7 linked regions of the Homo sapiens genome follow. The protein of the gene in region 2 purifies or fractionates together with the protein of the main gene of each other region. This does not show direct contact. Each region holds a gene or a part of one and is shown on either strand. Other genes may lie near its edges. The genes, in order: HPX, UBE2U, FGB, A1BG, APCS, SAA2 and CP.

Evidence for each region.
Region 1: the proteins of UBE2U (region 2) and HPX purify together in Homo sapiens (affinity purification with mass spectrometry; one large-scale study listed by BioGRID and IntAct). This does not show direct contact.
Region 3: the proteins of UBE2U (region 2) and FGB purify together in Homo sapiens (affinity purification with mass spectrometry; one large-scale study listed by BioGRID and IntAct). This does not show direct contact.
Region 4: the proteins of UBE2U (region 2) and A1BG purify together in Homo sapiens (affinity purification with mass spectrometry; one large-scale study listed by BioGRID and IntAct). This does not show direct contact.
Region 5: the proteins of UBE2U (region 2) and APCS purify together in Homo sapiens (affinity purification with mass spectrometry; one large-scale study listed by BioGRID and IntAct). This does not show direct contact.
Region 6: the proteins of UBE2U (region 2) and SAA2 purify together in Homo sapiens (affinity purification with mass spectrometry; one large-scale study listed by BioGRID and IntAct). This does not show direct contact.
Region 7: the proteins of UBE2U (region 2) and CP purify together in Homo sapiens (affinity purification with mass spectrometry; one large-scale study listed by BioGRID and IntAct). This does not show direct contact.

The regions. Positions count from the first base shown.
Region 1 is NC_000011.10:6,434,014-6,438,283, forward strand, and holds part of HPX (hemopexin precursor), read right to left. Parts: intron 3,640-4,270; coding exon 3,427-3,639; intron 3,165-3,426; coding exon 3,033-3,164; intron 1-3,032. UniProt on the Homo sapiens protein: Binds heme and transports it to the liver for breakdown and iron recovery, after which the free hemopexin returns to the circulation.
Region 2 is NC_000001.11:64,216,738-64,221,007, reverse strand, and holds part of UBE2U (ubiquitin-conjugating enzyme E2 U), read right to left. Parts: intron 2,998-4,270; exon of another isoform or gene 2,955-2,997; coding exon of another isoform or gene 2,954-2,954; intron 150-2,953; coding exon 101-149; intron 1-100. UniProt on the Homo sapiens protein: Catalyzes the covalent attachment of ubiquitin to other proteins.
Region 3 is NC_000004.12:154,565,241-154,569,510, reverse strand, and holds part of FGB (fibrinogen beta chain isoform 1 preproprotein), read right to left. Parts: intron 3,704-4,270; coding exon 3,512-3,703; intron 3,023-3,511; coding exon 2,839-3,022; intron 1,919-2,838; coding exon 1,691-1,918; intron 1,131-1,690; coding exon 1,017-1,130; intron 330-1,016; coding exon 204-329; intron 1-203. UniProt on the Homo sapiens protein: Cleaved by the protease thrombin to yield monomers which, together with fibrinogen alpha (FGA) and fibrinogen gamma (FGG), polymerize to form an insoluble fibrin matrix. Fibrin has a major function in hemostasis as one of the primary components of blood clots.
Region 4 is NC_000019.10:58,347,328-58,351,002, reverse strand, and holds part of A1BG (alpha-1B-glycoprotein precursor), read left to right. Parts: intron 1-351; coding exon 352-633; intron 634-3,362; coding exon 3,363-3,650; intron 3,651-3,675.
Region 5 is NC_000001.11:159,586,462-159,589,957, reverse strand, and holds APCS (serum amyloid P-component precursor), read right to left. Parts: upstream 2,133-3,496; 5' UTR 2,037-2,132; coding exon 1,973-2,036; intron 1,858-1,972; coding exon 1,250-1,857; 3' UTR 1,093-1,249; downstream 1-1,092. UniProt on the Homo sapiens protein: Can interact with DNA and histones and may scavenge nuclear material released from damaged circulating cells. May also function as a calcium-dependent lectin.
Region 6 is NC_000011.10:18,245,402-18,250,167, reverse strand, and holds the start of SAA2 (serum amyloid A-2 protein isoform a preproprotein), read left to right. Parts: upstream 1-1,499; 5' UTR 1,500-1,565; intron 1,566-1,651; exon of another isoform or gene 1,652-1,712; intron 1,713-2,152; 5' UTR 2,153-2,156; coding exon 2,157-2,247; intron 2,248-4,119; coding exon 4,120-4,258; intron 4,259-4,652; coding exon 4,653-4,766. Other genes in the region: SAA2-SAA4 protein precursor, read left to right, coding at 2,157-2,247, 4,120-4,258.
Region 7 is NC_000003.12:149,218,751-149,223,613, forward strand, and holds the start of CP (ceruloplasmin precursor), read right to left. Parts: upstream 3,080-4,863; 5' UTR 3,043-3,079; coding exon 2,897-3,042; intron 1-2,896. UniProt on the Homo sapiens protein: Multifunctional blue, copper-binding (6-7 atoms per molecule) glycoprotein. It has ferroxidase activity oxidizing Fe(2+) to Fe(3+) without releasing radical oxygen species. It is involved in iron transport across the cell membrane.

The sequences.
Region 1 (4,270 bases), on a different chromosome or scaffold from region 2:
TACAACCCTTAATATTACCTAAAATTATTCTCTTTCTTCCTTTCTCTTTCTTATTGTCCTCTCTCACTTTAGCAGAGCCTGTCAGGGCAGGCATCTTGTCTGCCATGTTGACTACTGTATCTCAGTGCCTAGGACAATGCCCACTTCTTATCAGATGCTCAACAAATATTTGTTGAGTAAATACCTAGTGTTCTTGCTGCTACCACAAGTTCTCTTATTAGCCGTGTACTGAGTATACAGCGGTGACTGACATATCCACCTCCCCTGGGAGGTTTCCCACTGAAATTACCCTGCTCAGGAACCATATTTATTTTATTTTATTTATTTGTTTTTTGAGACAGGGTCTCAATCTGTCACCCAGGCTGGATTGCAGAGGCACAGTCACGGTTCACTGCAATCTCTGCCTCCCACACTCGAGCAATCCTCCCACCTCAGCCTCCTGAACAGCTGGGACTACTGGTGCATGCCACCACACCTGGCTAATTTTTTGTATTTTTAGTAGAGATGAGATTTCACCATGTTGCCCAGGCTGGTCTAGAACTCCTGGACTCAAGTGATCTGCCCCCCTCGGCCTCCCACAGTGTTGGGATTATAGGCATGAGCCACCACACCTGGCCCAGGGGCCCTATTTTGAGAACCAGAGCTATGCTGCTTTGTGCAATGAAGTAAATGATGAGTTCCCAACCCATTAATGTAGCCAATACATAGGCTGGCAATCAACCACTTTAATGTGGTGTGGTCTGAAAATATGGACTGGGCCATTCAGATTCCCTCTCTGGAAATCTTACTAGGAAAAAAGAGCAACTGAGGGAGGTATCAGTTGGAACTGAGACTGAAAGATCATGAAGTAGTGAGAAAGTGGAGAGAACATGATGGTCCACGTGCAAGCCAAAGTTGTGAAGAAGCAAAGAGAATAGATAAAAACCTATGAGGGGCCAGGCGTGGTTGCTCATGCCTGTAATCCTAGCACTTTGGGAGGCCGAGGCAGGCGGATCACCTGAGGTCAGGAGTTCGAGACCAGCCTGGCCAACATGGTGAAACCCTATCTCTACTAAAAATACAAAAATTAAATTAATAAATAGTACATTGTAACCCAAAAAAAAATACAAAAATTAGCCAGGCATGGTGGTATGCGCCTGTAGTCCCAGCTATACGGGAGGCTGAGGCAGGAGGATCGCTTGAACCCAGGAGGCAGAGGTTGCAGTGAACCAAGATTGCGCCATTGCACTCCAGCCTGGGTGACAGAGTGAGACTCCATCTCAAACAACAGCAACAACAACAACAAAACTGTGAGTCAGAGAAAGAAAAATTTACCAGTGAGAGGGGAGGGACTGCCCCATGCTGTAGCTGGGTCATGTTGGTGATTTTACCAAAATAGTGCATTCTCACCTCAGCTAGGTATATATATATATATATGGGTTTTTTGTTTGTTTGTTTGTTTTGTTTTGTTTTTTGTTTTTGTTTTTTTTGAGACATGGTCTCACTCTGTCACCCAGGCTGGAGTGCAGTAGCACGATCACGGCTCACTGAAGCCTCGACCTTCCGGGCTCAGCCTCTGAAGTAGATGGGACTATAGGAACGCACTACCACACCCGACTAATTTTTATATTTTTTGTAGAGATGAGGTTTTGCCATGTTGCCCAGGCTGGTCTCAAACTCCTAGGCTCAAGCCGCTCAAGCAATCCACCTGCCTCAGCCTCCCAAAGTGCTAGGATTACAGGCGTGACTCACCACGCCCGGCCTGGGTATTTTTAATATAAGGTGTTCTCTCCATGCTGTGGGCTCTCTCAACAGCTATGGAACATACATGACATTTTTCATTTAGGAGTTCAGTAGCATTCTCATTATGGCCACATGGCCTTGAAGTTCTGTGATCTCTAGATGGCTTGGTGTCTCTCTCTATTTCTGTGTGTTTCCTGTGGCCCTGTTTTCACAATCTCTCACTCACTCTCTCTCTCTTTCTGCATTTCACTTTGTCTGTGTGTCCTCCCAATGGGCTCCCACCATGGCTGTGTGTTCTCTTGATACTTATGTGTTCTTACTATGGCGTATGTTCTCAGTTTAATGTTGTATTTTCACTACAGGTGTGTGTTTCATCTTAGCTGTATGTTCTTATTATAGTGTGCAATCCTGCTGTGGAGATTTGCTCTCCATGTGGTGATGTATTTTTCAACAGAACTTGATAGTCATAACTGGTCAAATTTGTCCAAGGGTCAGGAGCCAAAAAAATTTTGTGTGAAAAAAATATTTTCACGATTTTATATTCTTACCACTGTCCTAATTATACATATATCTCAGGTTGGATGTGATGTGGTTGCTCACTCCTCTTGGGGATATTCTCAACTGTGCAGCATGACTATTTACTGCCTGACTGAACTCAGAACAGCCCTAGGTATTATTAGATGGCTTTTACCAATTGATGCCACGGGTCAAGGGAGGGGTATCTCCATTGGCTACTCAGAGGAGAAACCTCCAGAGGCTAGTGAAGCCAGCCTCTAAAGGTCTAAAGTACCCAACACTTCTCAGCTGGTTCTCAGCAATGAGAACATCTCATCCCCAGGCAGTGCTATGCCCAGGGGTCTGGACATAGGAACCAGGAACCTGAAACAAGATGGAGTTCTGAGGATAAATCAGGGGGAGCCAGAGGACTCAGAAAGATATGCAAGAACAAAGGGAGGCAAGGAGGTACAGAGACACATAGAGGTCCAGGGAGCAAGGGAGAGCCAGAGGGCTCAGCAGGGCATTGAGCAAGGAGAACACAAGGAGTCATAGGGGCCCAGAGAGGTCCACAGGGGGCACAGCCATGGGAGTAGATGGTAGACAGGTAGATGAAGTTAGGGGCTTGGGCCGTGACAGACAAGATTGAGAAATATGCCTCAGAGATGAGGGATGCAGAAGGGCATGCAGAAGGATGGGGACAGAGGGGACAAAATAAGTGACACAGTGATGACAATGGAGAAATGTGTCAAGGATGGGAGATACAAGTAAAAGAGATGTGAGAGCACATTGGGGGAGTTGGGGGCATCTCTCACCACTGAAGGCATAGGTGGCACCATGGTTGTCAGACGTCAGTGCAGACAAGACTAGATGTGGGCTACAGCGCATATACTCAGGGCCATGGTGGGTACTGTTCCCATGGCCAGTCCCATTCCTGTGTCCATGGCCTGGAGAGAGAAATGGGTGAGGAGAACACAGAAGGAGGCCAGAGGTCAGAGTGAGGTCCAAGGTGGAAGAGATGGCTGGGGTTAGTGGGGTGTGGGTTTCCCCATATGAGGGCAATGGGAAAATCCAGAATGGAAATGGGGCTAGATTAAGGGCCAAGGTGTCGCAACACGGAGTTAAAGTGAGAGCTAGGACACGTGAGATCCACAAGCTCAGGGAAAGTGGATGAATTCTGACAGGTCTCAAGTGCTAGGGCTTTCTCACCTCTGCCAGGGCAGGGCATGAAGTAGTCTCGGACATCCCGCGGGTACCTGGGAGGCACCTCTCCCCTGACAGGGTCGAAGCGCAGGAATTGGTTACCCTGGAAGCAGTAGTAGCGGCCCAGCCATCTCAGGGCAGAGGAGCAGTTCCCAACAGCTGGCCAGGAACGCTCCTTCATGGTTCCCGTAGCCAAGTCCCAGAACCACTCGCGGTCACCTTTGTCCAATCAATCAACAGGCATTTGGTGAGACCGGGTTACGCCCTCCTTTGTGCTTTCTCTGGGTCCCAGGATGGGCCAGATAATGGTACTGACCACATGGAGCTCACAGCCATCAGAGAGATGGCTAAAGGAGGGTGATCATACACCAAAATTCAGCAGCAAAACACACAGGATCAGCTCAGCAAAGGCAGTGGGGAGAGTCTGGGAAAACTTCCCAGGGAAGATGATACTTAAAGTGAAATCTGAAGTAGGAATTAAAAGGCACACAAGGAGAGATGGAACCCCAGAGAGAGGAAAGATTCCAAAGCATGGAGCAAACTGAGTGTACAGAGAATAGCATAGGGTTTCTGGAGCTTAGTGTTAAGGTAAAAGTATAATAAAAGTCAAAGCTGAAGGGCCAATAGGGATTTGGCCATGGAGAGACTTGTATGTAAGACTAAAGAGGGTAGATTTGTCCTAAGGGTCATGGGGAACAATGAGGGACTATTCACACAGAATTACACACAGTTGCCTTCACCAGAATGACTTCCTCTCCTTCCCTCACGTGACCTCTAGACCATACGTGGCTTCTCTATTTCCCTTCCTTAAAAAGCCACATAGTGGCTCCACCACCACCATCACTACCAC
Region 2 (4,270 bases):
TTAAAAACAAACATTTAATTATGATGAAAAACATAAAGAGTTTAAATAAATAGTCCTTTTGGTAAATAAATCGACATAAATTGTATAAAGAAAAACTTACCTGATACATTTACGTGGGTCTTTAGGTAACTCCTGGCTGTCATCTTTCACTATAAAGAAAAAATATGAAAGGATTCTGGTTTACTTGGAGATTGAATATATGGCTTTATGTGCACTATTTCCAAAGCCTCAATAAAATGGTAATAAAGGAATAAAAATAAGATATAAAATCTCAAGGAGAGCAAAAGAAAGATGACAAGAAAATTTTTCAAGATAGAAAGCAGATGTCAAGTGGTAACTGTCTTAGCAGGCCATAGAAATTTGAAAAAAAAAACTGCTTGATGAGAGGAGACCAACGAAAAGCAAATGGATTCGCACTTCAGAACCTGTGAAACAGTTCAGGAATTGAATGTGCCAGATACCTCTGGAAGGAGGGGTAAGAGGGAGAGCACAGACAAAAAACTTATACCCTCATCTTGTGCAATCACATGATGACCACTGCTCACGCAAGAAGGAAGATATTTAACCTCTGGAAAAACTGGGCCAGAGAGACTCAGGACTGGAGGACAGTAGAAACAAAACAGGATGGAGTAAGAAACTGAAAATGGAATAAATCATATCGAACAGACAAGATTCCTGATTCTCTCCCCTCGTCCAGCTGTCAGAGTATTAGCAGTGCTCTCTCTCTCTCTTGCTTGCACTTGCTCTCTCTCTCTCTCTCTCTCTCCACAAGCCTGGCAGATTCCTCTCAGGAGAAATAGTTAAGTCTAATGAAATGGCCAGGTTCTCACTGAATAATTCTACAATGAAATAAAACTGTCAACAAGCCCAGCCTGTATTCAGAACTTCCAGTCTTTTTAATAGTCCATTCATCATATGTCCATCATAAGAATGGATAGTCAAAGATCACTAGACATTTGAGCAAGGTCAATACCATAAAAGAGAACAATCCTAACCACAAAAAAAGAGAAAAATAGGAAACAGAAACATTTTTCTCAAAATCTTCCAGAATATACAACGAACAAAGAGATGGATAATAGGAGAAATTTGGTTTTAAAAAATTAGAGGATTGGCTGCACGCAGTGGCTCATGCCTGTAATCCCAGCACTTTGGGAGGCCAAGGCAGGCAGATTATGAGGTCAGGAGATCGAGACCATCCTGGTTAACATGGTGAAACCTCATCTCTACTAAAAAAATACAAAAAAATTAGCCAGGTGTGGTGGCGGGCGCCTGTAGTCCCAGCTACTTGGGAGGCTGAGGCAGGAGAATGGCGTGAACCCAGGAGGTGGAGCTTGCAGTGAGCCCAGATTGCCGCACCACTGCACTCCAGCCTGGCAGCCTGGGAGACAGAGTGAGACTCCGTCTAAAAAAAAAAAAAAAAATTAGAGGATCAGATCAATAGACCCAACATTCAAATCAGAGCAGATCTAGAAGAGTCAATAGGGAAAATGAAGAGAGAAGAAATTATAAAAGATATCACATAAGAAAGTTTTCCAGAACTGAATGATTAGAGATTGAGATTTCAATAGCTTATCAAATGTCCTATGTAATGTGGAGGCAGGGAAGGGGAGGATACACAAAGAAATATTATCAAAAATTTCAAATCACTGGGAATAAAAAGAAGGTTTAAAAAGCTTCCAGAAAAAAAAAGAATAAATCACATGTGAAAAATTGGACATCGGAATGAAATTAGACTTCTCAAGAGCAACACTAGAAACTAAAATGTAGTAAAGTATTTACGATTTGGAAAGAAAACTATTTCCAAACTAAAATTTAACCAAACTATGAGCATATGACAGTAACGTAATTACATTTTTAGGCATGCAAAGTTATAAAAGGTTTAGCTCCCAGGTACTAGGAAGCTCCTAGAAGATGTACTCCAACAAAACAAAGGAGCAAAACCAACCACAAGGAAAATGGGGATTGAGCAGCAAGCAGGAGCTCCAACCCAGCAGGCACCAAAAAGGCCATCCCAGCACACCTGCAAGAGAACTGCCAATTCAGAAATGGAGAGGAAGGATAGAGTGCCACAGGAAAGAGGGCTCCCAAAACAAAACAGACTCGATGCTGACTGAATACCTAGTAGCTGTTTTATAGCTTTGTCAGAAAGTTTAGAAGAAGAAAAGATAGTACACACATAAAAAACAAAGGAATGTAAAATCAGACCTTTTGTACAAGAAAAGAAAGATAATCATTTATGGTTTATCTGTGGCAAGTATTTATAAAGTCATATTAATGTAACCAAATCATATTAGGAGGATGGGGGAGAGGAAATGTGGGTAGCAATAGTAGTATAAAAGCAAAATCTTTGTATTTTATAAGATGAAGTCTATAAATAATATCTAAAACCGAAAAGCCTAGAAATATTAGTATAGAATCAACTTAGAAATGTGGTGGTAAATGCCAGAGGAAACAGCTAAATGTGTTGAAAGCTATTGTTGCCTCTGGCAGGCAGCACTCAGGGATAGAGGACATATTTCATTAAAAACTGATTCCTATTATTTGTCCTCTAAAACTATCAACATATATTTCTTTGATAGAAAATAAATATTTAACATTTCTCGTTAAAACTAGCAACTTAGAAACTTTGCCGAAAAGTTACTGGACTATCTGGTATAATGAAATACAAACAGGAAAAAAGAGGTACGTAACTCGAGCAAATAGATCCACACTCTACCCTGCTGTTAAACTCAGTTTTTTAGTATCTTATGACATTTTTAAGTAACAGAATATCTGTAACAAAACTGTAATCATCAACAACAAAACTGGTTCTGAATGATGGTGCTAAAAAAGCTCATGTTCTTGAACAAGTAAGCAATGCTACTGGACTAAATTTTGTGTTCCCCCGACACCCACAAAGTATATTTCTCAGGGGAAGGGGTATACTTACACCTAACCAAAGAAGTATACTCACTTTAAAAAGAAACGGCAACCTGGAATCCTATGAGACACCACCTGCTTCAATTGTAGAGACAATTTGCTTTAAAATTGCTCTATTATTAAAAGGATTTTTTTAAACCCAGTGAACAAACTGGGAACTTGAATTGGAGAAGAATCAAATGTCTGTCACAACATTTTCTTAATCACAAGCAGAATATGATGTATTTGTAGAATTATCAGGTTTTTAAAAAGTATATCACACAAATTAGTATTACAATCTCCCTAATATTTCTATATTCTCCTTTATTCTAGTATTATGACTCAATGTCAATTATAGCTTATTTAGATGAGCATCTGAAATGTATTAGATGATCCTCCTTTTTTATCAAAAACTATAGGAATATACTTGGCTAAGAAAAAATAATTACCTCAGGCTTAGCTACCATCACTCAGCTTTACTCTTTTTATACTCTTGTATTTTTCTTCAACCAAAGGTTTTAAAAATGACACAAAACTTACATTTTAAAAAATCAAAGCAACTATGACAAACAGAAGATAAATATTACTTGATAATATAACTACATAGAAATCAACATTCACAAGGATGAACTGAAAAAAGGGGCAGATAATTGCTCATATGAAACCTATGAAAGCTCATAACAAATTAGAAAGTAAGTAGCAATACTCAGAATCTATGAGGCAAACAGTTGTTATACATTGTCTCCAGACCTTCCTCCTCTGAGTTTTCATAAACTAGTTGAACAATAGGTTGGAAGGTATTGAAAAGGCCCCCTTATCCAATTCTTGGCGCCAGAGCTTTTTATCAAAGAAGCTCTTTGATAACATCTCTGAAAAATGGTCATTTAGCTCTATCAAATAAACACTAGATACAAAGAATACCTTTAGTAATAGAGAGTTTACTAACTGCCAGCCTGGCCTTGTCCATTCTTTTAAGCAACTTGAATTATTTCAAACAATTCTTCCTCATGTTTGGCCAACTGGGACCTGGATGGACTTTACCATTAAGAATGGCACAACTATAGAGTCATTTGCTTTTAGGAAAGATCAGCTGGGCACCCAACTGGCTAGATAATCGTTTGTTCAAACTGGTACACTGCAAGTGAAAGGAGGTACTGGGAATAATTATACCAGGACTTTCCCAGGCAGTCTGGGGTATGTGAGTCCTCTAAGAAAGGAAAAGGGGCCAGGCCACAAGGAAAGGAGGCTGTCAGGAAATGGGAAGGTCATCAGACCTCCACACTGGGTTTGAGCTTAGAGCTTGGTCTTCTTGTCAATACACTGAGGCAAAGACCTAGCTATTCAGGGTAGGCAAACATAACAAATGTTGGGG
Region 3 (4,270 bases), on a different chromosome or scaffold from region 2:
AAAGAAAAACAAAATAAAATCTCACCAAAAATAAAATTTTGGGAAACTAAAAACTGCCTTTCTTCCCTTATCTTTAGCTTCCACATTTTTGTCAGGAAACTCCTCTTAACTGCCTAAAACAGGCTTCCAACAATGAATGTTTTTTAATTAAAAAAAATCCCATTTCAAATAGAATGATTTTATTTTGCATGCCTGTTCGTTACCTGGTAGGCCACAGTAATTCTTCCCATCTGTGTTGGTTGCAACATTTCCAAATCCCTGTTTATATGGATCCCATTTCCTGCCAAAGTCAACACTACCGTCTTGACGGTTCTGAATCACTGTCCATCCTTTGGTTGACAGAAACAAAAAGAGCATATATTAACCAACAGCAAATAATGTCACTTTGAAAATAATATCTGAATCCCCTGTCCATTCCATTTAGTATATATTTGGTGCTCTAAAATAGACACAATAAGGAAATAAATATGAGAGGTAAACTTGTAAAATCTTTGGAAACTGCAAGTGCTTTATCTTACCCCAAATTGTGAATTATAGATATTTTATAACTTTTTAAATATCAGGTTGAATTCCACATCAAATTACTCTTTGTCAGCTATGTTAGATGTTAGAGCTAAGTCTTGTTTCCTGGCTTTTTAATTAATTTTTTTTTTTGAGACAGGATCTCACTATCCTCTGTTGCCCAGGCTACAGTTCAGTAGCATGATCAAGACTCCAGGTTGTGGGCTCAGGTGATCTCCCATCTCAGCCTCCTGGATAGCTGGGACTACAGGCACATACTACCAACACAGCTGATTTTTTTTTTTTTTTGGTATTTTTTTTTTTTTTGTAGAGTTAGGGTCTCATTATGTTGCCCAGGCTAGTTTCAAACTCCTAGGCTCAAGCTATCAGCCCACTTTGGCCTCCCAAGGTGCTGGAATTACAGGTATGAGCCACCACACCTGGCCTTGTTTCCTGGCATTTTACGGTATCCAAATAATTACAGATCAACAGGTCAACAACTGTCGAAAGCTTACCTCCATTTTCTGTATTCATGTCACAGTATACTCTATACGGTTTGACAGAACTGTCAGGTTGAATGAGATACATTTCAGATGTTTCACCTCCTTTCCTGATAATTTCCTCACATTCTGCAAATGTAAGACAACATTATGTTCAGGGGTTTATGACATAATTACTTTGTATTTAGTCACCAATTCTTTAAAATAACATTACATAAGTTACTAAGGAGTGTGTTATTATAGACCTTTGAAAATAATATAACAAATATTAGATTTTCATTTTACTTTAGTAAGTCCAACCCAGTTTTGAGGACGTTTATCTGCTAAGAGGATGAACAAAGCTCTTCTCCACCTTTTGTGTCCTGGAATATCCATGAGCTCCCAGAACACACAAAATGGAGAAACTTCTACATCTATCTGTGGTTCTGCCATCTGTTCAAGCCAGTACGCAGATGCACACATCAGCCACCCCTGGGACTACCTGTGCCCCATCCTGCTCATCAAAACCAGCAAATGCACCAGGCCAGTCCAAAACACAACTGGCTAAGGATATTTTTATGATGTACTGTAATGTCATTATGATCTGTTGGGAAAATCCACTTAGCATTTTTGTTGTTGTTGTTGTTCTCTTATTTTTGGTGTGTGAGTTCTTCTGGAACTCTCTAAAAATATGTTTATGAATCAGTTACCTTTGCCAGACACCACAGGAATATTGCAACTGACAGTGCATGGGGTGCGACAATATTCCATTTGAGCTGAGACATCAGATTCTAACTTTTGTATTTTGCTTCTCAGGTTTTCCAGGATTGAACGAAGCACACGAAGGTTAGTTGGGATATTGCTATTCACAGTCTCATCTATATATAATTGGTGCTTTTCCAGTTCTGAGGAGTACTCATTGACTACATTTTCATTATCTGGAAAAATGAAATTATGTAGAAATAGTTAGCATTTTTGCCTCATAAAACTAATGTATTTAACTATACAATTTTGATTTTCTGAGAATAAACTATTAAACACTGAGCTATCACCAAGCAGTTATGATATATAGTCATATTTAGTGGAAATGATTTGGCGCATGACATATACAAATTAACATAAATCCTAACCACCATACTAGTAATTTACCATAGGTATACGCTAAAGATTGTGTCCAGTAATAAATGAAATAGGTTGTTTATTTCTTTGGTGAGGGAAAAGAGGAGAAAGCAGTATTGGGGTCTTCCATCTGAGAAGTTCAATCTTACAGAGTGGATATGCTTGATTTATTTATCCATTTCACATAAGTATAGCAGAACCTTGAAATTTATAAGATGTCATGATTCCTTTGATTTCTTTGAAAAATTTCCAACTGTGGGTATGCTACTCACTGAGATGCCTGTGCCAGGCTCACGCACTAGCTGTTTCCTGACCACCAAGTCAACAGCACTCAACATTCTGACCTCAAGATTCACAGGTTAGGTGTCATTATCCACAACACAATTGAATATATTATGGATAACTCTCTCATTCAAAACCTCAAATGTTAAAACTATAAATGCTAGGGGTTTTTTTCCACTCTGTAAATATTATCTTCTGAGTCACAAGTTTCTTGTATACTTAAAATAAGGAGTCATAGTAGAATTTTTCATAGAAAATCACACTTGCTGATGTCAGACTGGGAATAAGAGCTGAATAGTGCTTATCTGGCAAGTTGCAGGGGAAGGTGCCCAAAAGCGTATGAATGCTATTCACTAACCCAGAAATGTTAATCTTCTCACAACCATGCATTCTCGTGGCAGTCTAACGGTTCCAATTTTATAGCTGAAAATCGAATGGAAAGCACAAGGATATCTACCTTTTACTTGCTTCTGCCTCTTTTGCCACAGGTCTTTCAGCAAATACATGTACTGAAAGGAAGAAGAGGAGGTCTGGGAAACAGCTTCCACATTGTTATTTAACTCATCAACACTATTTCTGATTGGCCTTTCCTGTTGTAGCAAAGCCTCTTGCAACTGACATCCTGTAGGACACAACACCCCCTAAAAACAAAGAAAATAGCAGGCATTAGATGAAGGATTTGGGTCATGGACATTTGTTAAAATAGCACATAGGAAAATTCAGCGATACGATTAGCCAACATAAAAATTTATTATTTGGTTTTCTGTAAGACCAGAAATTCGAAAGTCATCATCATACTCTCATAGAGATTTAAAATATTACTTACCCCAGAAAAAATATAATTGGGCTATGAAAATTTTACCAACTAAACAAAGGCAGTGGCAAAATACAAATGGAAAGGTGGCACCCACATATCCTAATTTGAAATTTTGGGCCCAGACCAAAGAAAACAAGAAAGAAAGCCTAAACCAAAGGCCCAATATGTTTATGTTTTGAATTTTATTTCCAAAATAAACAAACAAAATAACAGTGATGGTAATGTGGGTCAGTGAAACATTAGCAGACTGCCATGACTACAGGCTTTCTCTGCATGAGAGAGCCACCACTGCAAGAAACATCAGTGCACCCACCAGGTCTGGGTCAGCGTGAAGACAGCCTCCAGCATCAGGGGCTTTTCTTTCTACTTTCTTTTGAGTGGCAGCTGCTTTGGCTGGACGAGCCCGATAGCCACCTCCACTGATGGGCGGTGGGGCAGGCCTCAGGCTGGGAGCCTCTTCTCTCTTCTTGTCAAGGGGTCGATGACCACGGGCACTGAAGAAACCCTACAAGGAATGAGGCAGAAATATAATACAGAGTGTTATAGAAGATTTGGAATGTAACTATTCCAACACCCTCATTTTATAATTTAGGTTATCACAAGCTTGATAATTTGCTTAAGATCCATCAACTGGCTGGTTGGTGATAGTGAATCTGTAGGTTGCTTACTGTTCAGTAACAGTAGAAAGACCAACTGCACAAAAAAGCTATGATGCAGTGTAGTTTTTAAAGAGAGGCCTTAGGATAAAGCTGTATCAGATTATGAATAGTAATGACCTCATATTCCTAAAACATACATTGGAACTTACGAAATTGTAAAGAATCTATACTGTCAAGAAGAATGAATATTCTCAAGCCACTTGGATTGTTAGATTCCTATGATTATTGTTAATCATTTCCCTACTTTCATTTTTGTGAATTGGTGATTAGACTCCTATATAAACATATTTAAGAGACATTAAAGACTTATTAAAGGTTGATTCTACTTGGAATTTATTTGTAATAAGACAATCTTTGACCCTCATAATGTACTCTGGAGCTCGGCTACTTGTAGGTCTTGACCGTAGGGTTGA
Region 4 (3,675 bases), on a different chromosome or scaffold from region 2:
CCTCCGTGGGGCGGGCATTGGGGCGGTGCTCAGAAGACGCTCGTGGAGCAAATCCACTACTGAGCGGCATCGTGCACCAGGCATCAAGCCATGCACAAAACATGTCCCCGTCCCCGCTTCCCGTCTGTGTCTGTAGACAAACAAATTACTAAGAAACAGTGAAAGGGTGCGTGTGAGATATCCAAGGACTGGGATGCAAAGGTGGGGCGGGCCCGGAGGAGGCGAGGGAGGAAGCTGGCCAGGTCATTGCGGGCAGAAGACTCAGCCAAGGCAAAGAGCGCGAGGCCAGACCACGCGTTAGGGCCGAGCCAGCCGCTGGGCGCCCGGGTCAGCCCGTGTGCTGCTCCGCAGAGACGCTGCCCGCGCCGGAGTTCTCCCCGGAGCCGGAGTCCGGCAGGGCCTTGCGGCTGCGGTGCCTGGCGCCCCTGGAGGGCGCGCGCTTCGCCCTGGTGCGCGAGGACAGGGGCGGGCGCCGCGTGCACCGTTTCCAGAGCCCCGCTGGGACCGAGGCGCTCTTCGAGCTGCACAACATTTCCGTGGCTGACTCCGCCAACTACAGCTGCGTCTACGTGGACCTGAAGCCGCCTTTCGGGGGCTCCGCGCCCAGCGAGCGCTTGGAGCTGCACGTGGACGGTGAGCTGGCGGGGCACCAGCGAGGGCGGGCGCGGGTTCAGTGCCCCTCGGGGCCTCCTGTCTTTCCCCTCTTTCCTTGGGCGTCCGACGGCGGCGCTCTGGGCCTTGGTTCAGCCCCCATCGCCTACCCCGGCGGGGAGCAGGCGATCGGTGGTCGAGGGTCTGGGGACGCCTGGAATTTCGGCTTATTTCCCACGGACGCAAGCCCGTAGGTCACGTGTAGCGTGGTGGTCGGCAGCAGGGAGGCTGGCCCCAGGTTTTCTTGTTCAGATCCCTGCAGCTCTGTGGCTGCCTTGTTTTATTACTGGCCATGTCAGTCGTCATACTGGACCCCCCGCCCCGGCCCCGGTCCCGCAGGCGCACGGCTGATGTGTCCTTCTCCCCATCCCCGCCGTCCCCAGCTCTGTTTGTCCCTCTGATTTCCTCATCGACGTCTCCAGGACTCAGAGCCCAGCAGAGCGTGAGGGCACAGGTCTGACCTCCAGATCTTGAGGTCGTACCCTTTGCTGGGAGCACCGTTTTCTCTTTTCTTTCACTTTCTTTCTTTTCTTTCCTGCCTTCCTTCCTCTTTCTTTCTTTCTCTTTCCTTCTTTCTTTCTTCCTTCCTTCTTTCTCTCTTTTCTTTCTTCTTTTTTCTTCTTTCTCTCTCTCTCATCTCTGCCCCCCAACCCCATCTCTCTCCTTCATTCCTCCCTTTTCTTCTCCTTTTTGTTTTTTTTTTGGATAACTTACTTTTATTCTTGCAGGCCGGAGTGCAGTGGTGCAGTCTCAGCTCACTGCAACTTTCGCCTTCTGGGTTCAGGCAGTTCTCCTGCCTCAGCCTCCTGAGTAGCTGGTATTAGAGGCGCATGCCACCATGCCCACCTAATTTTCGTATTTTTAGTAGAGACCGGGTTTTGCTATGTTGGCTGGGCTGGTCTTGACCTCCTGACCTTGTGATCTGCCCGCCTCTGCCTCCCAAAGTGCTGGGATTACACTTGTGAGTCACCATGCCCAGCCTATTCTTGCAGTGTTATAAGCCACCATCCACAATTGATGAAAAATGTTTAATCTTGGCCAGGCAAGGTGGCTCACGCCTGTAATCACAGCACTTTGGGAGGCCAAGGCGGGTGGATCACAAAATCAGGAGTTCAAGAGCAGCCTGGCCAACATGGAGAAACCCTGTCTCTACTAAAAATACAAAATTAGCCAGCTGTGGTGGCACATGCCTGTAATCCCAGCCACTTGGGAGGCTGAGGCAGGAGAATTGCTTTAACCCGGGAGGTGGAGTTTGCAGTGAGTCCAGGTCATGCCACTGCATTCCAGCCTGGGCAACAAGAGCAAAACTCCATCTCAAAAAAAAAAAAAATGTTTAATCTTTAAATTGTACATCTATATCCTATGACTCCAAATTTTATTTATCACTCTCCTTAAAGTCTGAAGAAAATGATTAATTTACTAAGCTCCAAAGACAACACAGTCCCACTGACATAACATTTAGTATGATGTCCTACTCTCCTGTTAGAATTAAGAACAGCCAGTATCAAACTGGCCTGAAATCTGATTGGGTTCCTGGGCTCAGAATAACTGTAGTAAATTTGTAAATCCACACTAAGACACAAAATTAAACTAGGATGTGTATATCTATCTTACAAGAAAACGTTTCACAGTAAAAATTAACATTATGATTTTACCAAATTTCAACATTATAGTTTGTTAATCCAATCAAGCTTTCAAAATTCCTGATTAGCTTACAATTAATTGCAAATAACTTCATGTAGTTTGGCTAGCATTTCAAAATGGATAGGGAATATAACTTTTAAAATGCGAAAGTATATTATACATATTGCACTTTTCTGCTAGGCTGGGCTAGTATCTTCCATGGCAAGATACTCAAACTATTGAATAAAATACACATTTAAATCAAGCACTTACATGTACTTCATTAATTTCCCTGAAATTATCAACAGCATTACCAAAATCTTCCAGGATTTTGTAACATTTGATTCCTTACAGTTTTGTTTTGTTTGTTTGTTTTTGAGACGGAGTGTCACTCTGTCACCCGGGCTGGAGTGCAGTGGCGCAATCTTGGCTCACTGAAACCTCTGCCTCCCAGGTTCAAGCAATTTTCCTGCCTCCACCTCCCGAGTAGCTGGGATTACAGGCGCACGCTGCCACGCCCGGCTAATTTTTTGTATTTTAGTAGAGACGGGGTTTCACCGTGTTACCCAGGCTGGTCTGGAACTCCTGAGCTCAGGCAATCCGCCTGCCTCGGCCTCTCAAAGTGCTGAGATTACAGGTGTGAGCCACTGCGCCCGGCACCTTAAATACACTTTTAAAGTTAAACTTATGGAGGGAAAACCCTCATCTATTGACATAGATTGTATGTCCTTTTTTGGTCCCTCCATGAAGGAGCACCGTTTTCTCCATCATTTCTTCTTCCCTTCACCCGTCAGAGTGACCGAGGCTGGGGACCCCAGAAGCCCCAGAGCAGGCCCGAATCTGGGACTTCCACGGTCCTGGGGGAGGGGTGCGGGGACACTCACGTGTGGCGCGGATGTCCGGGGTGTGAAGGCAGCGGGCGCAGCTCGGCGGCGCCGGAGGAGCCCTCTGCGCCCAGGAACAAGACAGGGAAGATGAAGCCGGGGCTGAGGCGCAGGCGCGGGCGCGGCCTGGGGTGTGGCCTGGGGTGTGGCCTGGGGCGTGGCCTGGGGCGTGGCCTGGCCCGACCACCCGCCCGCTCCGCCCAGGACCCCCTCCCAGGCCTCAGCTCCGGGCGACGTGGAGTGGGGCGGTCCTGGCGGGCCGAGATGCCGTCCTGCGCTGCGAGGGACCCATCCCCGACGTCACCTTCGAGCTGCTGCGCGAGGGCGAGACGAAGGCCGTGAAGACGGTCCGCACCCCCGGGGCCGCGGCGAACCTCGAGCTGATCTTCGTGGGGCCCCAGCACGCCGGCAACTACAGGTGCCGCTACCGCTCCTGGGTGCCCCACACCTTCGAATCGGAGCTCAGCGACCCTGTGGAGCTCCTGGTGGCAGGTGACGTTTCCCTGGGTCCCGGGTG
Region 5 (3,496 bases), about 95 Mb from region 2:
TCTTCATATCTGGTGACTGCCTCTGTTCATTCTGGCCAAATGGCCTCATGAGTTTGAAATCATGACATTGGTTACCATCCTGAAGCTTCTGGATGCTATCTTTCTGATTCCACTGACTACATGCTCTACTTATTATCAGTGAGAAAAGCCTGTCTTATTTCCCATATATGTAGCTCAAACTCCCTCTGGGATCCTTGCTTCTCTGGGAATGCAACTTATATCTGTTGACGATGTGCCAGGCACTGTGTTCCATGCTTTTCATAACCATAAAAATAACTACTAGTAATAGCATCTGACAATTATTTTTCAGTGTGATAGTTAGGATGTGGCTTGCTCTGCTAAGAGTTGTATCTGAAATGTACATGGAAAGTCCATTTCAGAGAGTATTCTGTGTATACTCTCTGTGTACATTTCAGAGAGAGTAACTGGGACCAGGTTATAGAGGGCAATGTCATATTTAGAGGTTTAAATCATGTCCTGTAAGAAGTGTGAATCCATGGAAGAATTTTAGACAGCATATTCATGTGAGCAATATTCAGAGTATAATATTTTTTGATGACATCAAGAGAACATTATGAAAATCAAGCATTGTACAGTCCTACTGAGGTTTTTGAGACATAAAGTTATGTTTGTCTTCATACAAAATGATCCCAGTCTCATACTTTTTTGGTTTTCATTCTGACTTCTTCTAGTTTTATTCTTCCTGTCTTATTACTTGCTGTCAGGTTCTCAACTATTGCTTACTTATATCATTATAGTTGTCTACCTGATGCAACCTCAGACCCCTTTTTGATCGATTTGTAGCTGGAAAAACAAATAGGAGAATTGTGATTACAATTCCACACATATTTTGAATCGTCATTAAAATGATTGTTAGTAGCTTTTAAGTATTGCCACTGTTGTGCTCATTGAGTGCTCTGGCTTTGTGATATATCTTTCTAGTTACTTACAGGTTTTCCTCCCCGTACTTGGCAATTGGAGTTTTCAGGATAATGAAACACCAATTACCAATGAAACACCAATTAGTAGATAGATAAGTAGTAGACATAAGATAAAGATATGGGACTATGACAAGCACTAAACAAATGCAGGTAGCATAATACAATATATATTTTTTTAATTAGGCAGACATACAGATAGGAAATTCAAAGAAGAAAGAGCTGCAGATGTAAGATCTAGTATCCAGTTGCTTTGACCAGATCTCTTAGACAGTCATTTCATTTTCAAGTGCTCTCGTTGAGTCAAGACCTCAGACCCACACCAAGGGTTTGATGATGACATATCCTCTGATTTCATAGTTCAGAGCCTGCCAGTCCAGGATATTGGCAGGGAGAGGGGTACCCTGATAGGCAGACAGGATATTTTCTGGGGGCAGCACAGAGTCCCACATGTACAAATCCCCAATCTCTCCCACAAAGGACTGGCTCCTATCAAACTTGCCCCCATAGGAATCCTGTTCCTGCCCCAGGACAATCTTGGGCTGAGCTTCTACAAAGTAACCCTGTCGCAGACCCTTTTTCACCAAAGGTGTCCCATTGATCCAAAATTCAGCAATACCTGATGAGGACTCCCAGCTCACACAGATGTGCACTGGAGCCGGGAACTTTTCGATAACTTTGGATGTAACTTTGTGTCTTCCAATGTATAGACTATACTCTCCAACTCTTTCTTTATAAACTAGTAGCTCATTATCCCTGCCTTGGGTATTGTAGGAGAAGAGGCTGTAGGCACGAGAGAGATCACTATAGGCTCGAAAACACAAGGTAAAGTTCTGTAGAGGCTTCTCCAGCGGTGTGATCAAGTTTACATGATCAGTAACAGATTCTCTAGGAAATACAAACACCTTCCCACTGAGGTCTGCGGGATAAAGAAAGAAAGATAATGACCTTCAGTATAAATGCAGGGAAAAGATATCTCAGCTTCAACCTATTTTCTCACTTTATGATTCTTGACCATTCCTTCACCTCCTTACCTGTGTGAGCAAAGGCTTCCAGGAGGCTGGTGAGGACAGAGATCCAAAGCAGCGGCTTGTTCATATTCCTGGCCTAGGGCTGTTATAGCAGAAGCAGTGACCAGGATGAGGGTAGCAGACAACACAGTGGCTGTCCCCCTAGCGTCTGATATTCATGCCCTTAGACTTCAGGTTATTCAGGGTTTATATGCACCTTGGGTGAGGATGGGGGAGGAAGAGCACCAATAATATGTGAGTGATTTTCCAGGTCTGCCTCCTGGCGCTTACGGTGAAGGAGTGGTGAGCCCTGAGCTGGAAAATCAATGGGAGTTATTTATTAGAGACAAGTGATGGCTAGAGCTCCAACTCCTGTGACCCAGATTTTATTGCTGGGAAGAGAGTCATTGCAGGGCAGCAGGGTTATGGATGGGATGAGGCGCTGGGCTGGCCATGTCAGCAGAGCCTCTCTCTGCTCTCTGGGCCCCCTCTCTGATGGCTCTGTGCTCTGCCAGAAGCTCCTGAGCCACACAGAGTGTATCGCTGAGCTCAGCCCTCTTGTGGGCTATGGGAACAAGGCCTTTTCTTTCTTTTATAGTTCTCAAGTTGTCTTGTATTTGTAGGATATTCTAGGATTCTGCTTTCTGCTGAAGACCCTAAAAAGTGCCTTCAACTTTGACTAATTCAACATCAAGTAATACATCCAGGCAAAGCTAAGGGGAAAGAGGGACTTGGAGAATAAACTTTCTGTCCCCATGAAGCTTAGTATTTTTCTGCTACTTCTACTCAGTGCTTTTTTTTCGTTTGCATATCATGGTGCTTCCTTATCCTAGATCTTTCCATTTCTCATTACGACTTGTTTTCTGGTTACTTCATGCTACCTGCAGAGATGTCAGCATCTCCCCAAGTTTTTCTCTCCTCTTCTTTGAGTCCTTGGTCATTGAGTGTATATCTAATCCATCTTTGGTGATGACCCCACTAATACATTTATTCACTAGCTCTCAGTTACTACACTAGGTGCTGGGGATTCAGTGGTCACTGGCTCTCTCACAGCCCCAGAGATCTCCACCTTCATTCTTTCTATGTCTCCTTCATTCTCTCTCTGTACAGTTTATTAACCACCACTCAAACCTTCTCTGCCTCTGAGATATCAAACTGAAGTTCTTCTTTCTAGCCACATTATTTCTTTCTCTCTCATCCCTGAATTATATGGTGTCTTGTTTCTCATCCTACTGTTTAGCCTCTTGTTCACTCTCTCTTCTGTTAGCTCACCACAGACCTAATCAGCCTTTTCAATGACACAATCACTGCCACCAAGAATACACTTTCTCTATCATTGTTCAAAGTATCCTTCCTATTCTCATCCCTGGGGAGTTTCCATTCTCTACTTTTTTTCTCTAAATGGAATCCCAGGTTGTGAAGCCTTATCTGGCTTGTTGCACAGTATAGGTTAGTGATAAAGTTGGGATTATGCATCTATTGACTCCTGAATTAAATACAGACCATTTGCTTGGAAGCCAATGCCATTTGCAATCTGGCTCTAACCTG
Region 6 (4,766 bases), on a different chromosome or scaffold from region 2:
TTGACTCCCTGGAATAAGCCCTGGTTAATCACGATGTGCTATTATTTTCACCTGATCTGTGCTGTACCATGTACAGCATGATGTACTATTACTGCTACCCAGTTGGAAACATTCAGCCTCTCTCTGTGAGCTCTTTTTCCCTGGGGATGTCAACTACCCTGCCTAAAATATGTGTGACTGTGTGTGTGGACCCATTCCAGCAGGTACCACTCTCAGTGGTTTTAAGGTGGCAAGATGTAGTGGGGGAGGTGGAGGTGTCAATGCATAGGTCTCAGAACAGAGTCTATAATATCATTGTTCACATTGGAGCCACGCATTTGCTGCTTATGGAGTATTTGGCCATCCTTTACTTCCTGGCCCTACCCATTTCTCAGAGATTAAAAAAAATTTTTTAAGATAATCTTGCTGTGTTGCCCAGGCTGGCCTCAAATTTCTGGGTTCAAGCAGGCCTCCTGCCTTGGCCTCCCAAGTAGCTGGGACTATAGGCACATGCCACCATGCCTGGCCCATTTCTAAATTGCTTGTTTGTTTGTTATTACAAATGCCTAGCCCTCAGGGTATGAACATGGACTGGAGAAGAAGAAACCAGAGTTGCTGCTATGTCCACCAGCCTCTCTGCATGTCCTGGCCTCAGCCCCCCTGGGCTCTGGTACTGACCCATCTCTGGCCACCATGCTCCTCCATAAGCCTCTGCAGAGCTAATCTGACCCTGTTGATGTTCTCATGAGAGAGTGATCTGCATGCCCCCTGCACCCCTCCGTGATAATACAGCAGACCAAGAGCTCTCCCACCCTTCCCTGCCTGGATGCTGGGCACGTCCCCAGCTGGGCTGCCTATTTAACGCACCACACTCTCATTCTCCCAAGGTGGGGCTCCAGGACTAGGCTGGGGCAGCAGAAAGTCCCCCTCTCTACATTGTCCTTGGCTCAGGAGCCAACTTAGAAAAAGCATTTCCAAATTGGCTAAGCCAGCGGAGCAGAGATTTTCTGTGCTGAGAAATATCAGGACATCCAGAGGGGTGGAAGGAGGCTTCCAGGGCACACATGAGATGTGGCAGGGGTAGGCTGTCCGTTTTAAAGCTTAAAGCTTTAGACATGAACTCACAGGGATTTCAGTCAGGGTCATCTGCCATGTGGCCCAGCAGGGCCCATCCTGAGGAAATGACCGGTATAGTCAGGAGCTGGCTGAAGAGCTGCCCTCACTCCACACCTTCCAGCAGCCCAGGTGCCGCCATCACGGGGCTCCCACTGGCATCTCTGCAGCTGCACTTCCCCCAATGCTGAGGAGCAGAGCTGATCTAGCACCCTGTCCATTGCCAAGGCACAGCAAACCTCTCTTGTTCCCATAGGTTACACAACTGGGATAAATGACCCGGGATGAAGAAACCACCGGCATCCAGGAACTTGTCTTAGACCAGTTTGTAGGGGAAATGACCTGCAGGGACTTTCCCCAGGGACCACATCCAGCTTTTCTTCCCTCCCAAGAGACCAGCAAGGCTCACTATAAATAGCAGCCACCTCTCCCTGGCAGACAGGGACCCGCAGCTCAGCTACAGCACAGATCAGGTGAGGAGCACACCAAGGAGTGATTTTTAAAACTTACTCTGTTTTCTCTTTCCCAACAAGATTATCATTTCCTTTAAAAAAAATAGTTATCCTGGGGCATACAGCCATACCATTCTGAAGGTGTCTTATCTCCTCTGATCTAGAGAGGTAAGCAGGGTCGGGCCTGGTAGTACTTGGATGGGAGAACACCTGGGAATACCAGGTGCTAAAGGCTTTAAGAATAAAAAATAATGATCCTGCTTTGTGTTTATCCCATGTTGAGTTCTGTGCGGGGCAGAGGGAACACACGGTAAATGCGTTATGGGGAATTATAGGCTACTTGAGGGAGTGACAGTCTGGTGGTAACTCCTGCCTTCCTCCATCAGTGCCACATTGGCATCCTCTTATGCAGTCAGGCTTCAGGGCTGATGGGTTCAGAACCGAGGGCTTCTGGCTCTGAGTGAGGTCCTGCTGCAAGGTTTCCTAGATGAGCCACTGAGACTCTAATAAGATCCAGTGGAAATAACCAGGCTCTCGTCGGAATATAAGTCCCAAGGGAAGCTGTGCCAGTCTTGTGGGCGACTGCCTGACTTCTCCTTTCATTTCAGCACCATGAAGCTTCTCACGGGCCTGGTTTTCTGCTCCTTGGTCCTGAGTGTCAGCAGCCGAAGCTTCTTTTCGTTCCTTGGCGAGGCTTTTGATGGTAAGGCTTCAGAAGGTTTGCAGGATTTCTGAAGAGAAACATCGCCCTGGACCTGATAAACTGGGGAAAATGATGCTTTCGGAAGGCTGCTTTTGAACCACAGAGTTGCTAGTGTCTGCGTTGCTGAGGCCTGCCAGGAACTAGGGTTTGCTGGGTTGCCTGTCTCGAGTCTTTCAGAGCTGCTGGGAATATCCCCTTTCCCCGTAGTGCAGCTTCTCAGGATGTGTTAAGTGGATGGATCACATTTCAGAAGCCGCTGCAAGGTGTATCAAAAACACATCTCCTGAGCCGTAAGGGACGGGGCATCCAGTAACAACGCACACGGGGTATTTTTGGGCTTCCTTAAGATTTGAGCCGCTGCCTTAGGTTGTGCTGCCCAATGTGCCTGGGGAGCTGCTAAACAGATTAGAGAGTCGAGGATTGTTGTCAGTTACTCAGAGAAAGAACAATCATCCTTTCCAGGAGCACCTGAGCTGTTTGTTTTGAGTAGAAGATGCAAAATAAGGCCTGCAATTGGTATAAAATGTCCCTCAGCATAAATCGCATAGGAGTATGACTAAGGCTGTTGACTCTTCTGTCTTCTTTCTCCTTCCTCCTTCGATTTCCTAGTTGGATAATGTACAGGGCTCTTTAGCCTCGCTCTGTCAGGGGCTCCCTTCCTGGTTTGTTCTGTTTCCATTCTTCCTTCTCCAGCCTTCTTGACAAGAGCTGGGAACTAACGTGCCTCAAGCCCCCACAAGGACCACAGCATTTTCTCATCTAGTTTCAGAATGACTCTGTGAGGCAGGCATCCCTTCTGTGAAGGTGAGAAAGCTGAGACTTAGAGCAGCTGAGGCCAATGCCCAGGGACTTACTGCCAGTCAGCAGGTGGCAGGGCAGAGGTTTGAGCCCGGCTGTGCTTGAGGTCAGGGCTCTTGCCAGGTAGACGCATCACTGACCACCTCCCAGAGGTTGATGGTTATGAATCTCAGACACACCTTGGCATCACCTGAACTACCCATGCCTTCAACTCCCCAGCAGAGTCTGCAGAAACTGGCCTGGGGTGTGGCCTGGGCACTGGGACTTTCAGTTTCTCTCTGGGTGATTAGAAAGTGCAGCCAAGGCTCACGCCTGTAATTCCAGCACTTTGGGAGGCCAAGGTGGATGAATCACTTGAGGTCATGAGTTCCGGAGCAGCCTGGCCAACATGGTGAAACCCTGTGTCTACTAAAAATATGAAAATGTAGCCAGGCGTGGTGGCAGGCACCTGTAATCCCAGCTACTCAGGAGGCTGAAGCAGGAAAATCACTTGAACCCGGGAAGCGGAAGTTGTAGTGAGTTACATTGCTCCAGTGTGCTCCAGCCTGGGTGACAGAGTGAGACTCCGTCTAAAAAAATAAAAAAGAAAAAGAAAGTGCAACCACGGCGGAGAACCGCTGCTCTATTGCTTCCTCAAGCAACCCACAGTATCAGTACAGCCTACTGAGAAAGTGTTTAGGGACTTTTATGCTCCTAACAGTCACTGGAACTCAGGTCACAATGACATGTATTCCATTTGCAAGAATATATACTTTAGTAGTCAGGGCAGAAGTACTCTGTGTCTGCCACCTTTCTCAGCATCAGTATTCCATGTCACCACCTCATTCATATACACTCCTGGATCTTATCATAGGCAGCTTCATTCTATAGCAGTGGCTCTTCACCAGGGCACTTGAAGAAGCCAACTAGGATAAAGGAATGTGCTTCTCAACCCATGGTATCCAAGGCTGCTATGATCACAGGCTGAAAGCTTGAAGTCAGTGGAAGATTTGTCCTTCTTTCATTCCCCTCTAAGGTGTTGTTGGAGTCTTTATGTTCTCCTGATGTCCCTTCTGCCTTTCCTTTCCTTTCCAGGGGCTCGGGACATGTGGAGAGCCTACTCTGACATGAGAGAAGCCAATTACATCGGCTCAGACAAATACTTCCATGCTCGGGGGAACTATGATGCTGCCAAAAGGGGACCTGGGGGTGCCTGGGCTGCAGAAGTGATCAGGTAACTGGAGCTCCTGGGACGTTAGGGCTGGGTGAGCAGAGCTTGCCTGCCTTGGACAGTCAGGAGGGAGACGAGCTCCTTGTGGAGAAGTTAGAGGCTGTGGTCCCTCCTCTTCTTGCCCTCTCTCTGCCTCTGTGCTCAGTGTGAGGGTCTGAGTGGATGGTAGGAGTGAGTGATTCCTCCCCCTCCCCCTCTGGGTGCTGTTCATCCAGCCTAGGGGTGCCCAGCCTGTCTGAATGGGGCAGTGCCCAGGCAGGGTCAGTGTTTTCACTCCTCCTTCCTTGGCCTTTCTGGGCTCCTCTCTGAGCCCTCCCTTGGAACGGGGAGAATGGGAGGGTGAGCTGTTGCTCACTGGCCTGATGATTAATCTCCTTCTTGCCTGCCTGGACTACAGCAATGCCAGAGAGAATATCCAGAGACTCACAGGCCGTGGTGCGGAGGACTCGCTGGCCGATCAGGCTGCCAATAAATGGGGCAGGAGTGGCAGAGACCCCAATCACTTCCGACC
Region 7 (4,863 bases), on a different chromosome or scaffold from region 2:
CCTATATTCTAGGTACTAGTGACCAAGCACTAGTACTTGCATATGCATATACTAGTACTCTCAATGCATATTTTCCTGTTCATCATCCCAGACCTTCAAGATCAACATTCAGCTTAAACTCGATTCTTTACCTAAAATTCATATTACACTCTTTCACATCTTATTCTTCAGCCCATTTATTTCCACTCCTTTTTAGTCATCATACGATAAGAAGTGCCAACCATGTCTTGTGATACTCCATCATCCTTCACTGACTGGGCTAAACATGCTGCAAATCTGGGACAAAGAAGGGACCAAAAGGTTGCTATCTGCACACATCTATGCAAAAAGTTTAGCATAGTATTGGCAAAATTGCTGAAGCTGTATTCAAAATTCACTGGTAAGATATATGGGGGAAAAAAATCACAGAGAAAGCAGTCCCACCTAGAGTTTGCAAAACTGTAGCATATTGTTGAAGCCAGAGGAGATGTTAAAGTCACAGGACAATAACAAAAAGAGAGGTGGACTTTGCAACTAGAAGATGCTCCATTTTTCCTTTTAAGGAGCCTTAAGTATCTCTATTAAGTATACTTTTTAAGTAACTGATATGGTTTGGCTGTGTCCCCACCCAAATCTCACCTTGAATTGTAATAATCCCCACATGTCAAGGGAGGGGGCCAGGTGGAGGTAACTGAATCATGGATGTGGTTTCCCCCATATTGTTCTCATGGTAGTGAATAAGTCTCATGAGATCTGATGGTTTTATAAATGAGAGTTCCCCTGCACAAGCTCTTTCTTGGCTGCTGCCATGTAAGACGTGCCTTTGCTCCTCCTTTGCCTTCTGCCATGATTGTGAGGCCTTCCCAGCCATGTGGAACTGTAAGTTCATTAAACCTCTTTTTCTTTATAAATTACCCAGTCTTGAGTATGTCTTTATTAGCAGTGTAAGAACAGACTAATACAGTAAATTGGTACCTGGAGTGGGGCACTACTGTAAAGGTACCCAAAAATGTGAAAGTGACTTTGGAATTGGGTAGCAGGCAGAGGCTGGAATAGTTTGGAGGGCTCAGAAGAAGATAGCAAGATGTGGGAAAGTTTGGAACTTCCTAGAGACTTGGAGGGCTCAGATGACAGGAAGGTATGGGAAAGTTTGCAATGTAAGACATGCCTTTGCTCCTCCTTTGCCTTCCACCATGATTGTGAGGCCTCCCCAGTCATGTGGAACTGTGAGTCCATTAAACCTCTTTTTCTTTATAAATTACTCAGTCTTGAGTATGTCTCTATTAGCAGCATAAGAAGAGACTAATATAGTCACAATGGGGTAAACAGGCTTATACTCATTGGGTAGCTTCCCTGGCACAGACAGGCCACAGGAGTAATTAAAAACAAAGGAATTTCCTCCGCCCCCATTCACCAAATTCTAAACAAACTCCTTCACTCTTCTACTCCCTGATTTTTAGAATTAAAGATTTTTTTTTGAAGCATATTCAGGGCAATGTCTTGCACTTAGTTTATGCCTGATAAAGCTGATTTGATTTTTGATCACGAACAATGGCAGAGTGGTGGTGAGTGGGGGCATAGAGAAGGATAGTATTTTTATTTTTTTAATGTGTCTGACTTTTTCCTTGGAAATAAAAACCACATATAATTTATATTATATTTAATCAAGAAAATACTGAATCCATGCAAAATAATGTTTCTGGTGAAGCTGTAAAAATATGTCATATTCCTTAGAAGATAATACCACCTTAAAACCAGGTTAAAAAAGAAATAATTACAAGATGTATTAGTTTTATTTACAACCACTTATCTTCAGGTCAGAAACTTTCTTTATTGTATATTATTAAATTCATAATATAATAATTGGATATTAGTATCTGTTATGTATTTATTTTTATGGTGAAAAATTTCAACTTTACATAATGTTAAAGAAAATAGTATATACTCATCAATAAGATTCAATAATTACAAACTTCGGCATCCTTATTTAGCTGTTTTTTAAAGATATAATCTTGGCAGCTGATGGTCATTGGGCTTGTTTGTGTTTTATTACCACTGAAATACATTTTAATGTAGTGAATATTGATTTTGAATTCCAAGTTCCCATTTGGTGGTTAATGTTTAATTAACATCATTAAAAGTGAAGACCTCAGTATAGATAAACTTCTGTACAAAAAACTTCAAGGAGAACTAAACTTTTTGTTTTACTGTGTAGTGAATATTGCTTTCAATAAGGGGATTTTCCAACTGAAAAATGAAGACATTTAAGTTACATGGAGCTTTTTGAGGACCATCCTAATAAGTACCTGACATTTTTTTATGCACATATGTGCCAAGCATTGTACTAAGAGCTTTACATGCACCCGCTCTTTAAATAACCCTATGAGCTATGCTTATTATCCTCATTTTACAAATTAGGACCCTGAAGCTGTGAAAGATTAACCTACTTAACTGTCTGGAGTCTCTCAATAAATATCAGGCAGGATCTTATTTGCTAAAATTGTATTTTATTTCTATAAGTGATGTTTTGAAAGATATAAAAAAATTTTATGCCTATCATGAATAACCATTAAATGGTGCAATAAACATAACATTGTATACAGTAATTGTTTAAATGAAAGAACTTCTGCATAAACACATAAAAAGACAGATTCCTAATCGGAGATGCAGTTACGACCATGGGAGGTAGTAAGATGTGAACACAGATCCCCAGGAACAACAGGAAAGAAGCAGGGTAGTCCACCAAATAAAAAATATACAGGAATATAAAGGAGATTGATTCAAGTGTCTTGGGTTTCAAGCCCACATTTTGCAGTTTCTGTATATAAGAAATTTTAAAAATATTTCATCTTATTGGCTCTATCCTTTAAAAATAACTTAAAATTTTGGTCTATAAACAATAAAAATAGTGACTTACGTGTCAACAGAAATAAGTTTCTTTTCCCCATGGTCAGAGGCATAATCCCAAGTCGTTTCAATAATTCCAATGTAATAATGCTTTTCTTTCGCCCAGGCTGGGGTACTACATAAAAACAGAAAAATACCAAGTATCAAAATCTTCATTTTTTTCCCCTTCTTGGAGCCTGAGAAGAAATGAAGTAAAATCAGGAGCAGGCAATTTTATAAATAAGACTTTCTTCCTTATTTGCTTGATTGACACAATTTAGTGTTGCACAAGAGTAAATTGTTTCATTAAAGCAAATATTTTCCAATTCAGTTAAGTTCTCGTAAACCACCAAAAAAACAGTTCTTGGTTGCCAGGCTTCTCTGACTGAAAATAAAAAGTCAACAGTTATTGTTGGAGGCATTAGGGTGTGCATAACTCTGTGCCTTTTTCCATTCATTGTGTAAATTCCAGGAGGGCAGAGAACGTGTCTAAATGCTCCCTTTGTTCCTCTGACAATATGTCACAGCACAGTGTCCTGCAAACAGTGCACTTTTAGTAAATCAGGATAAGAATTATGTAAAATGAATCAAAACATGTAGCTTTTTACTACAGTCATTCTTAATGACAGGGATACGTTCTGAGAAATGCATTGTTAGGCTATTTTGTCATTGTGTGACTATCACAGAGTGTACTTACACAGACTTATATGATATAGCCTACTATACATCTAGGTAGGCTATATGGTATACCTATTGCTCCTAGGCTACAAACCTGTACAGTCTATAACTATGCTGAATGCTATAGACAATTGTAACACAATGATATTTCTGTATCTATACATATGCAAACATAGAAAATGTACAGTAAAAATATGTTATTATAATCTTATGGGACCACCATCACATATGCAGTTTGTCATTTACTCAAACATTATTATGTGGTGCATGACTATTTCTAAAAGTCTAACAAATGATTAATTGCAGCTTTATGATATGAAACATGATATCTAGCATGCCAAATTTAAGTAAACAAAAATAAGAATTTAATTTGGAAGAATTTATCTGTTTTATGAGCTTGGACCAAATCTGCATAAAAACTTTACCAGATCATTCTGTATTGCTATATGCAAATAACTAGCAGAGCCTAACAGGGGCTAATAACTTTGTTTTAATCATCAAATAAACAAACCATAACTAAACCTGTCTTCAGAGGCAAAGATTAGTCTTAGTAAATAGAAAGTACCCCAGTTTATCATTAGACTGAAATTTTTCTCTTTGAAGTGGATATGAATTTTAAGGTGGAAGACTTTTTCTTAAAACCCTGTTTTTAGTCAGGAAGTATATGTCTAAAAGTATGAAATGGCTTTTTTTTTTAGCTGAAGAAAATCCTGATAACAGTTGACACTTTGTGTTAGTATAATTTTTTTTCTCTCAAATACCTCAAAACGTTGTGTATTTGCTGAAGGCCACTTGTTGAAATAGATTGGTATAGAAGAAAGCATGCGATATTTGAACAATTCCTTCATTTAGGAAATATTATTGAATGAGCCAAGTTCTGTTCTACTCACTGGGAATACAGCAGTCTGTGCCAAGTTCTGTTCTACTCACTGGGAATACCGCAGAGAACAAAACACCTACCATCATGCAACTTACATTCTACTTGGGGAAACTGAAAATATAAAAATGAAAAATGAAATACACAATATTAGTGGTGAATGCTATGGAGAAAAATAAAGCAGAGAAGGAGAATAAGGAGTGCTAGGGAAAAATCTGATGCTACCAAATGACCTCAAGTAAGATACTTCAGCCCAGCTTCAGTTTCCTCATCTGAAAATCTCAGGTTAATTGAAATGACCTATGTTAAGGCAGACAGTGGAGGAGCTTCTCTCACCAGCTGGTAATAATCTTAACTAAATGGCTTGGTACAGAAAACTGAATCATGTTGCCCAGGATGCCCCAAGGCCTCCTTCTAGGACTGCCTTGAACAATTGTGCCGTC